Linked DNA regions of Homo sapiens. The protein of the gene in region 1 purifies or fractionates together with the protein of each later gene. This does not show direct contact. Each region holds a gene or a part of one and is shown on either strand. Other genes may lie near its edges.

Region 1 (5,242 bases):
TTAGTAGAGATGCGGTTTCACCATGTTGGCCACACTGGTCTTAAACTCCTGACCTCAGGTGATCCGCCAACTTTGGCTTCCCAAAGTGCTGGGATTACAGGCATGAACCACCATGCCCAGCCTCAACAGGGAGTTTAATTAGGAAGGAAATACCCAACGCCTCCCCTTTGTACCCTATAATGCTGGTGCCTTTCACTGGCCAATTCCAACCAGAAGTTGAAAGGTAAGGGAGCTGAACTGCATTATCTGTAGGATGCAGAGAAAAGCGGATAATAGATCTGGGAGGGCCTTTCATGGTGGCTCACACCTGTAATCCCAGCACTTTGGGAGGCTAAGGCGGGTGGATGGCTTGAGCCTAGGAGTTGAAGACCAGCCTGGGCAACATGGTGAAACCCCATCTCTACAAAAAATTGGCTGGGCATGGTGGTGCCTGACTGTAGCCCTGGCTAGCAGGGAGGCTGAGGTGGGAGGTTTACCTGAGCCTGGGAAGTTGAGGCTCCAGTGAGCCATGATCCTGCCACTTCACTACAGCCTGGGTGACACAGTGAGACCCTGTCTCAAAAAATAAAAATAAAACTAAAGATAGATCTGGGAGCCAAACAGAGTAAGAAACACATTGTTTACCATGTAAACAGGGTCTATATAGAAGTAGGGCCAGGAGCTGTGGCCCACATCTGTAATCCCAGCACTTTGGGAGGCTGAGGCAGGAAGATTGCTTAAAGCTATGAGCTTGAGACCAGCCTGGGCAACAAAGCGAGACCCAATCTCTATAAAAAATAAAAAGGCTGGGCATGGTGCCTCCCGCCTATAATCCCAGCACTTTGGGAGGCCAAGGTGGGAGGATTGTTTGAGCCCAGGAGTTTTGAGACCAGCCCGGGCAACATAGAGAGACCCGTCTCTATTAAAAATAAAGAAAGGAAATTAGCCTGGTGTGCTGGTACACACCTGTGGTCCCAGCTGCACAGGAAGGTGAGGTGGGAGGATCCCATGAGCCCAAGACTTCGAGGCAGCAGTGAGCTATGATAGCGCCACTTCACTCCAGCCTGGGCAACAGAGTGAGACCCCATCTCTTAAAAAAAATTATTTTTTAATAAAAATAAAGTCAGTGAAACCTCAGCTGAAATTGCAATAAAATTTCAATTTCGGCCTTATTTGACATCCATTTTCATTTACTTGAGAAGTTATCTATGCCATGTATTGTGTATCTCAGTAGATGTGACATACTAACAGTAAGAGCAATTGCATTGTACGCTCTTCTCTAACAACACTGACTGCAGAGACATGTAGTGTATTTTTTTCATCATCTGTTGAATTACAAAGCATGGAGACAGATGAAACATGATTCTATTGATTATATGAGTAGAACTCTCACATAATCTGGTTGTCTACTTTTCTGGGTGGTGGTGTTTGTTTGTTTGTTTGTTTGTTTTTGAGATGGAGTCTCGCTCTGTTGCCAGGCTGGAGTGCTGTGGCGCGATCTCGGCTCACTGCAACCTCTGACTCCCTGGTTCAAACAATTCTCCTGCTTCAGCCTCCTGAGTAGCTGGGATTACAGGCACGTGCCGCCACGCCCAGATAATTTTTGAATTTGTTAGTAGAGACAGAGTTTTACCATGTTGGCCAGGCTGGTCTCAGTCTCCTGAACTCATGATCCGCCCACCTCAGCCTCACACCCGGCTTTTTTTTTTTTTTGAGATGGAGTCTCACTTTGTCACCCAGGCTGGAATGCAGTGGCACAGTCTTGGCTCATGGCAACCTCCGCCTCCAGGGTTCAAGCAATTCTCCTGCCTCAGCCTCCTGAGTAGCTGGGATTACAGGCGCCCACCACTAGGCCCAGCTAATATTTTGTGTTGTTTTTGTTTTTGTTTTGAGACAAGAGTCTCTGTCTCTTGCCCAAGCTGGAGTGCAATGGTGCGATCTCGACTCACTGCAACCTCTGCCTCCCAGTTTCAAGCAATTCTCCTGCCTCAGCCTCCCGAGTAGCTGGGATTACAGATGCCCATCACTGTACCCAGCTAAATTTGTATTTTTAGTAGAGACGGGGTTTCGCCATGTTGGCCAGGCTGGTTTCGAACTCCTGACCTCAGGTGATCTGCCTGTCTCAGCCTCCCAAAGTGTTGGGATTACAGGCGTGAGCCACTGCACCTGGCCTAATATTTTGTATTTTTAGTAGAGATGGGGTTTCACCATGTTGGCCAGGCTGGCCTTTAACTCCTGACCTCATGATTCGCCCACCCCAGCCTTCCAAAGTGCTGGGATTACAGGCGTGAGCCACTGCACCCGGCCCATTTTTGTTTGTTGTTTGAAGTATGCGAGTATAATTAAAGGAATATTGATGGTAGAAATGGGAGAAGAAGTTTGTCACATAAATCATGTAAGAGTTCCTGTTGGGATAACAATAAAAGATTTATATTCCATAATTAACCTAAATAATTTTTATTTTTTTTAAATTAGGTTGTTGCTTGTGAACTTGACCCAAGGCTAGTAGCTGAACTTCACAAAAGAGTTCAGGGCACGTGAGTATACATAATAGAATTAAAGTGCATTTCAATCTCATGAAACAACATTCTTTTTACATTTCTTCTTTTCTCATCAGGCCTGTGGCCAGCAAACTTCAAGTACTGGTGGGTGATGTGCTGAAAACAGATTTGCCATTCTTTGATACTTGTGTGGCAAATTTGCCTTATCAGGTATGTCCTCACATTTTCAGGAACATCATACTAACTGTTCCTCTGATGTGTCTTTCCCGGAAATAACTAGTTAATTCTCTTACAGATCTCTTCACCTTTTGTCTTCAAGCTGTTGCTACATCGACCTTTTTTCAGGTTTGTGACAAAAGACTAGAGTTACTGCCAAATTTTGAAAGACTTACAGTTCAGGTGGTGAACATAGCCAAAAATGAGTCAGGTCAGTTGAAAAACTACTGAAGAATTTTTGTAGAAAATGTTGATTTGTATGGAGGTCTTTCTCTCTTTAATTGAGAGGTTATTTGGGGGTAGTGTGCTGGAAGTCCTGCTTCTGAGACCAGACAGCCTTTCCCTATTTTTGAATCTTCCTGCCGTTAAGTCTAGGTTAGAATTTTTATTACCTTATGTCTAGACAATTGCAGTGGTTTCCTAACTGGTCTCTAGTATAAGAGGTCTTCAAAAAGTTCATGGAAAATGTGTATTATGAAAAAAACTTGCATGGATTTCAAAATTTTTTTGCACCAAAATAAACTCTGTACTAACTGAGCAGGATCTAGTGTGAGGCACTGAGAAGGATAAGACATCAGTTTGAAAAGAGCCCCTATCAGAGCAACATGAACTCTGCTAAAATTCAAGTAAGAACAAACATCCAATTTATGGTGAAACCTGGTTGGAAGAATGGTGAAATCATTGATGCTTTACAAAAAGTTTATGGAGTCACACCTGTAATCCCAGCACTTTGGGAGGCCAAGGCAGGCGGATCATGAGGTCAGGAGATCGAGACCATCCTGGCTAACATGGTGAAACCCCACATCTACTAAAAATACAAAAAACTAGCCGGGCGTAGTGGCGGGCGCCTGTAGTCCCAGCCACTCGGGAGGCTGAGGCAGGAGAATGGCGTGAACCCGGGAGGCGGAGCTTGCAGTGAGCCGAGATCGCGCCACTGCACTCCAGCCTTGGCGACTGAGCGAGACTCCGTCTCAAAAAAAAAAAAAAGTTTATGGGGACAATATCCCAAAGAAATCAGCAGTTTACTAATGGATAACTCATTTTAAGAAGGGCTGAGACAATGTTGAAGATGAAGCCTACAGTGGCACACTGGCCATATCAATTTGTGGGAAAACATTCATCTTGTTTGTTCCCTAAGTGACGAGGAACAACATTCAACAGCACAAACAATAGCCAACACCATAGACATCACAGTTGGTTTAGCTTACACAATTCTGACTGCAAAATCAAAGTTAAACAAACTTTGTACTTGATAGATGCCAAAACTGTCATACCCTCTTTTCTGAAAGATTTTATGAAAAAACAAAACAAAAAACATTGTACTCAAATCAGCTGCAGATAAAAGCAGAGCTTCCAGTGGAAATTTTACATAACTGGGATCAAGATCCTGAAACATGGCTGGGTGGAGTGGCTCACACCTATAATCCTAGCACTCTGGGAGGCCGAGGCGGGCAGATCACTTGAGGTCAGGAGACCAGCCTGGCTAACATGGTGAAACCCCATCTCTACTAAAAATAAAAAAATTAGCTGGGCATTGTGGTGGGCACCTATAATCCCAGCTACTCGGGAGGCTGAGGCAGGGGAATCGCTTGAACTCAGGAGGCGGAGGTTGTAGTGAGCCAAGATTGTGCCACTGCACTCCACACTCCAGCCTGGGCAACAGAGCGAGATTGTCAAAAAAGAAAACAAGATCCTGAAACATTTCTTCAAAGAATTACAAAGAATTGTAATGGAGATGAAATATGGCTTTACCAGTGTGATCCTAAAGACAAAGCAGAGTGAAAGTGATGCCTACCAAGAAACGGAGTGGCTCCAGTCAAAGCAAAAGCAGACCAGTCAAGAGCAAAGGTCATAGCAACAGTTTTTTTTTGAATGCTCAGGGCATTTTGCTTGCTGACTTTCTTTAGGACCAAAGAATGAAAACATCTGCTTATTACAAGAGTGTTTTGAGAAAGTTAGCTAAGATGTAGCAGAGTAACTCCTGGGAAAGCTTCCCCAGAGATTCCTCCACCATAATACTTCTACTCCTTCCTCTCATCAGACGAGGGCAATTTTTCGAGAGTTTCAATGGGAAATGGTTAGGTATCCACCTTACAGTCCTGATTGGGCCCCTTCTGACTTCTTTTTATTTTATGAGACAGTCTTGCTCTGGTGCCCGGGCTGGAGAGCAGTGGTATGATCTGCACTCACTGCAGCCTCCACTTCCTGGGCTCAAGCATTCCTCCCACCTCAGCCTCCCAAGTAGCTGCGATTACGGGCATGTGCCACCACACCCAGCTAATTGTTGTATTTTTTTTAGAGATGGGTCTTGCCATGTTGCCCAGGCTGTCTCCCCCTCCTGAGCTCAAGTGATCTGCCCACCTCAGCCTCCCCAAATGCTGGGATTATTACAGGCATGAACCATGGTGCCCAGCCCTTCTGATTTATTTTCGTTTCCCAGTCTTAAAAAATCTTGAAAGGGCACTCTTTTTTCTTCAGTTAATAATGTAAAAAAAAAAAACCTGCAGTGACATGGCTAAATTCCCCAGAGCCTCAGTTTTTTTGAT
Region 2 (5,242 bases), on another chromosome or scaffold:
GTTATCTTTGTAGAGACGGGGTTTCACCACATTGGCCAGGCTGGCCTTGAACTCCTGACCTCAGGTGATCCGCCCACCTTGGCCTCCCAAAGTGCTGGGATTACAGGCGTGAGCCACCACGCCTAGCTGTAAGTAACTTTTATTCATTCATTAGCAAATAATTTTAGTCCCTATCGTGCATGGGATATCATACATAGTGCCATAAGACATGCAAAAAAGTCTAACACACTCTTCCTAACTCCTCTCAGATTGAGTTGAGGAATAAAACACACACACAAAGAATTATAAAGCAAGGTGTAGTGTGAAAAGATATCAAAGAAACAAAAGGTAAGAGAAGAGCTCATGAATGCAGAAAGTAGTCAAAGAAGGTTTTATGAATCTGATGAATGTAAGAGTACTTGTATTTTTTATTGTATTTTATTTTTAATATTTTTACTAGCAAAGCTATTATAATCTTGAACAAAAACATATTTCCAAAAAATCCTTAAATAAGCACATGTATGTTTATAACAACACTTTCCTAATTTAAACTGACACAGGAAATGCCAAGTTCTGGTTATTTCTGTGTATGTATGACAGAGTCTTGCTATTTCGCCCAGGCTGGAGTGAGGTGGCGTGATCTCGGCTCACTGCAACCTCTGCCTCACCGGGTTCAAGCAATTCTCCTGCCTCAGCCTTCTGAGTAGCTGGGATTATAGGCTCCCACCACCACGCCCAGCTAATTTTTGTATTTTTAGTAGAGACGGGGTTTCACTACATTGGCCAGGCTGGTCTCGAACTCCTGACCTCAAGTGATCCACCCGACTTGGCCTCCCAAAGTGGTAGGATTACAGGCTTGAGCCACTGTGCCCGGCCCAAAATGCCTAATTGTTTAGTAAGACTGGAGCACTGTCTTTAAAACATCTTTTTCTAAATACCTCTATACCTCAGAAATCTAAGAGTAAGACTCAACTAAAAGTTTCTAGGCCAGGTGCAGTGGCTCACACCTATAATCTCAGCACTTTGGGAGGCTGAGGCAGGAGGATCGTTAGCCCAGGTGTTCGAGACTATCCTGGGTACCGTGGTGAAACAACGAGTCAATAAGAAAACAAAAATTAAAATGGCCGGGCGCAGTGGCTCATGCCTGTAATCCCAGCACTTTGGGAGGCAGAGGCAGGCAGATCACGAGGTCAGGAGATCGAGACCATCCTGGCTAACACGGTGAAACTCCATCTCTACTAAAAATACAAAAAATTAGCTGGGCGTGGTGGCGGGCGCCTGTAGTCCCAGCTACTCGGGAGGCTGAGGCAGGAGAATAGTGTGAACCCGGGAGGCGGAGCTTGCAGTGAGCCGAGATGGCACCGCTGCACTCCAGCCTGGGAGACAGAGCAAGACTCTGTCTCAAAAAAAAATAAATTAATTAATTAAAAATAAATTTAAAAAAAAGAAGAAAGTTTCTAACTCCTGCCTGTTTCCACCAAAGAAAAAATTTTGCCTCCCACTTACATAAGAGTAAAATTATATTGCTGTTGATGGTGGTCAACATTTCAACACTTACTCTGTGCCATAAGCACTGTTCTAAATGTTTCACACATATTAACTCAATAAATCCTCTCAAACATTGTATGAGATATGTGCTATAACACCATTCCAATTTTATAGTTAGGACAATTGAGGCAGAGAGAAGGTAAATAACTTACCTAGGATCACATTACTAGTAAGTAGAATTAAAATTCTGCAGCTTGATGCCAGAGCCCAGGCTTTTTAAACCATTACAACACACTGTTATGCTCCTTGATTATTCAGTTACAATCCTTTATTTAAGACAGCCTAATGTAATTTAAGTGCCACTGCCAGGAACTTAATATATTTTCAAGTACATGTTAGTCTTAATAAAACTGATCCAGGCCGGATGCGGTGGCTTACGCTTGTAATCCCTATAATCGTAGCACTTGGGGAGGCCGAGGTGGGTGGATCACCTGAACTCAGGAGTTCGAGACCACCCTGGGCAACATGATGAAACACTATCTCTAAAATAATTAGCCGGAAGCAGCAGTGTAAGCCTGAAGTCTCAATCACACGGGTGAGGCAGGAGAATTGCTTGAGCCCAGGAGGCAGAGGTTACAGTGAGCTGAGATCATACCACTGCACTCTAGCCTGGGCAAAAGAGTGAGACCTCATCTCAAAATAGTAATAATAATAATTATTATTATAATAAAACTGACCCATTTAATTTTTATCTGTTTCCTATGCCTGGCTAGCTTCAATTCAATAAGCATATGGTGAGCAAATTAAGTACACAGTACTGTGGAATAAGTATATGAACAGACATGATTCCTATCTGCCCAAGTTTATTATATAGTGGGAGATACATACATCAGCTACTCACTAAACATGACAGAAGAAATTTGGAGACAGATAGAAATACCTGCAAGATACTACAAAAAAGGAGTGGTTAATTTTGGCTGGAGTGGAGAAAAAAATCAAGAGCGGTTTCAAGAAGGTAGAATTAGAACTAGACCTTGAAAGCTGCATTAGGAATGAGTCGAGGAATGGAGGGAAAGTGCACTCCTGAGTGAAGGCACAGAACAACTGTTTGATCATTATGATATTTACAAGTGCCTTCTATTACTGGAAATGGTAATTAAACAATGTGGTTGGGGCCGGGCATGGTGGCTCAAGCCTGTAATCCCAGCACTTCGGGAGGCCAAGGTGTGTGGATCACCTGAGGTCAGGAGTTCCAGACCAGCCTGGCCAAAATGGCGAAATCCCATCTCTATTAAAAACACAAAAATTAGCCGGGCGTGGTGGGGCGTGCCTGAAGTCCCAGCTACACAGGAGGCTGAGGCAGGAGAATCACTTGAACCCAGGAGGCAGAGGCTGCAGCGGGCCAAGATCATGCCACTGCACTCCAGCCTGGGTGACCGAGTGAAGCTCCGTCTTAAAAAAAGAAAAATAAAAACAATGTAGTTGGAAAATTGGGTATGTAACAATATATAATGGGAAATGATGACTAAAATTAATTAAGACACAGAGGATTTCAATACTATGCTAAAGAAAAGAAGCATTCTAACTTTGTGGGAAAATTCAAACTGTGAGTGAAGGTAACTCCAACAAAGACTGAAGGTTAAAATATCAAGGCATGACACAAGGAATAAGAAGTGGAAACAGAATGTAGTTACAATAATCTAAGTGAGAGTTTATAAGGGACTGTGAAACTATGAATACAAAAGATAACAACTTAGAAGCAGAATTAAAAGAATGGTTAGCAAAGCTAAAATGCCACTAATTAACATGTGAAACATATAGAACTTTTGTAAGAACTTAGAAAGAACATTTGTGGGAAGATGAATATAAGTTGTCTCAAAATATTGTTTGAAATATCAACTGGACATCCACATAAAGTCTGATGTTCACTACTAGTTTGAAAGATGTAAGGAAAGATACAGCCATAGAAACTAAACATTTTATAAAAACACATAGCCTTGGCCGCGTGTGGTGACTCACGCCTGTAATCCCAGCACTTTTGGGAGGCTGAGGTGGATGGATCACCTGAGGTCAGGAGTTCAAGACCAGCCTGACCAATACGTGAAACCCTGTCTCTACTAAAACAAAAAAATTAGCCGGGCATGGTGGCCCCTGCCTGCAGTCCCAGCTACTTGGGAGGCTGAGACAGGAGAATTGTTTGAACTTGGAAGGCGGAAGTTGCTGTGAGCCTAGATCACGTCACCGTACTTCAGCCTAGGCAACAGAGCAAGAGACTCTATCTCCAACAAAAAAATAAAAATAAAAATAAATAGCCTTTTCAACACTGTAATTAAATTAAGACATCATTTATATTGTTTGGGAGGATGGAAGAGACACTGGTTAATTTTACCATTAGACATCGTGTTAAAGAGAACATAAATGGAAGAAATAATATCCAAACTTGAAAGAGAAAAAAAGGGTAAGGAGGAAAGTGCAGGAATAAAGCAGGAGTAATCCAATAAAAGGAAGAAAGAAAGTGAAAAGCTGCTGGGAAGTGGCCCATGCCTGTAATCCCAGCACTTTAGGAGGCCGAGGGGTGTGGATCACCTGAGGTCAGGAGTTCAAAACCAGCCTGACCAAGGAGGTAAAACCCCGTCTCTACTAAAATACAAAAATCAGCTGGGCATGGTAGCAGGCGCCTGTAATCCCAGCTACTCAGGAGGCTGAGGCAGGAGAAATCACTTGAACCCGGGAGGTGGAGGTTGCAGTGAGCCGAGATTGCACCATTGCACTCCAGGCTGGGCGACAGAGTGAGACTCAGCCTCAAAAAAAATAAATAAATAAAAGAAAGTGAAAAGCAAAAGCACAGAAAATAGGAAATAAAAAATAAAACAGGAGAAATTAGTCCAAGAATTATCAGCAGTAACAATAAACATATTGAACTCAAAGACTGATAGACTGGAGTAAAAGCATACTGCTATTTATAAGAGATACACCCAAACTAAAATAACATATATAAAGGCTGAAAATAAAGAAACAGAAGACATGTGAGACAACTACCAAGCGGCCATATTAACAAATAAAATAGAACTTAAGAAAAAAGTATTTATAGAGATGAATAAAGCATGTATGAGGGATATAATAATAAAACAATCTAATAAGGAAATATGATGATCGTATACCTATATGTAGCTAATATAGCCTTTGGATAAAACAAAAATCAAAAGAATTTTAAAGAGAAATTAACAAAACCAAGAATCATGAGATGTAAAAACATCTCAGTAACTAGATCACAAGATTAAAAAGAAAAAATTAGTTAAGATACATAATTTGAATAACACAATAGGTAACTTTGACTTAACTGAAAAATTTCTGAACACTTGAAAACAATTAACTATTTGATTGCATATCTACAGAATATTCACAAAAATGATCACATAGTAGAACAATACAAAGAAAGACTTCACCAAAGAATCAATAACAAATACACCTTATTCTTTAACCACAATGTTTAATAAGTTTAGAAATCAACAGTTCTATTTTATTAAGTTCAAAGATTTTTCTTTTTATACTTTCTTAACTTTACATGATTATAGTGGTCAAAAGAAATAGACTTACCTTGTGAGCGCTGAGGTTTCTGGTTTCATCTAGATCCAAAAACATGTCCAAATCACATCCTAACTTCCCAAAAGTGTTGACTGAGGAGCCAAAGGGTCTGACTATGCAGTCTGGAAAATACGCGGCGGCCATGTCTTCAATAAGAGAACAGGTGAGATATCGGAGCTTAGTGTTCTCC

What was found. Proteins that work in one complex are often made in the same cells at the same time.
Region 2: the proteins of DIMT1 (region 1) and MTPAP purify together in Homo sapiens (affinity purification with mass spectrometry, with the first as the bait; one large-scale study listed by BioGRID). This does not show direct contact.

What each region holds. Positions count from the first base shown.
Region 1 is NC_000005.10:62,396,094-62,401,335, reverse strand, and holds part of DIMT1 (dimethyladenosine transferase), read left to right. Parts: intron 1-2,454; coding exon 2,455-2,516; intron 2,517-2,596; coding exon 2,597-2,690; intron 2,691-2,775; coding exon 2,776-2,825; exon of another isoform or gene 2,826-2,907; intron 2,908-5,242. UniProt on the Homo sapiens protein: Specifically dimethylates two adjacent adenosines in the loop of a conserved hairpin near the 3'-end of 18S rRNA in the 40S particle.
Region 2 is NC_000010.11:30,331,739-30,336,980, forward strand, and holds part of MTPAP (poly(A) RNA polymerase, mitochondrial precursor), read right to left. Parts: coding exon 5,065-5,242; intron 1-5,064. UniProt on the Homo sapiens protein: Polymerase that creates the 3' poly(A) tail of mitochondrial transcripts. Can use all four nucleotides, but has higher activity with ATP and UTP (in vitro). Plays a role in replication-dependent histone mRNA degradation.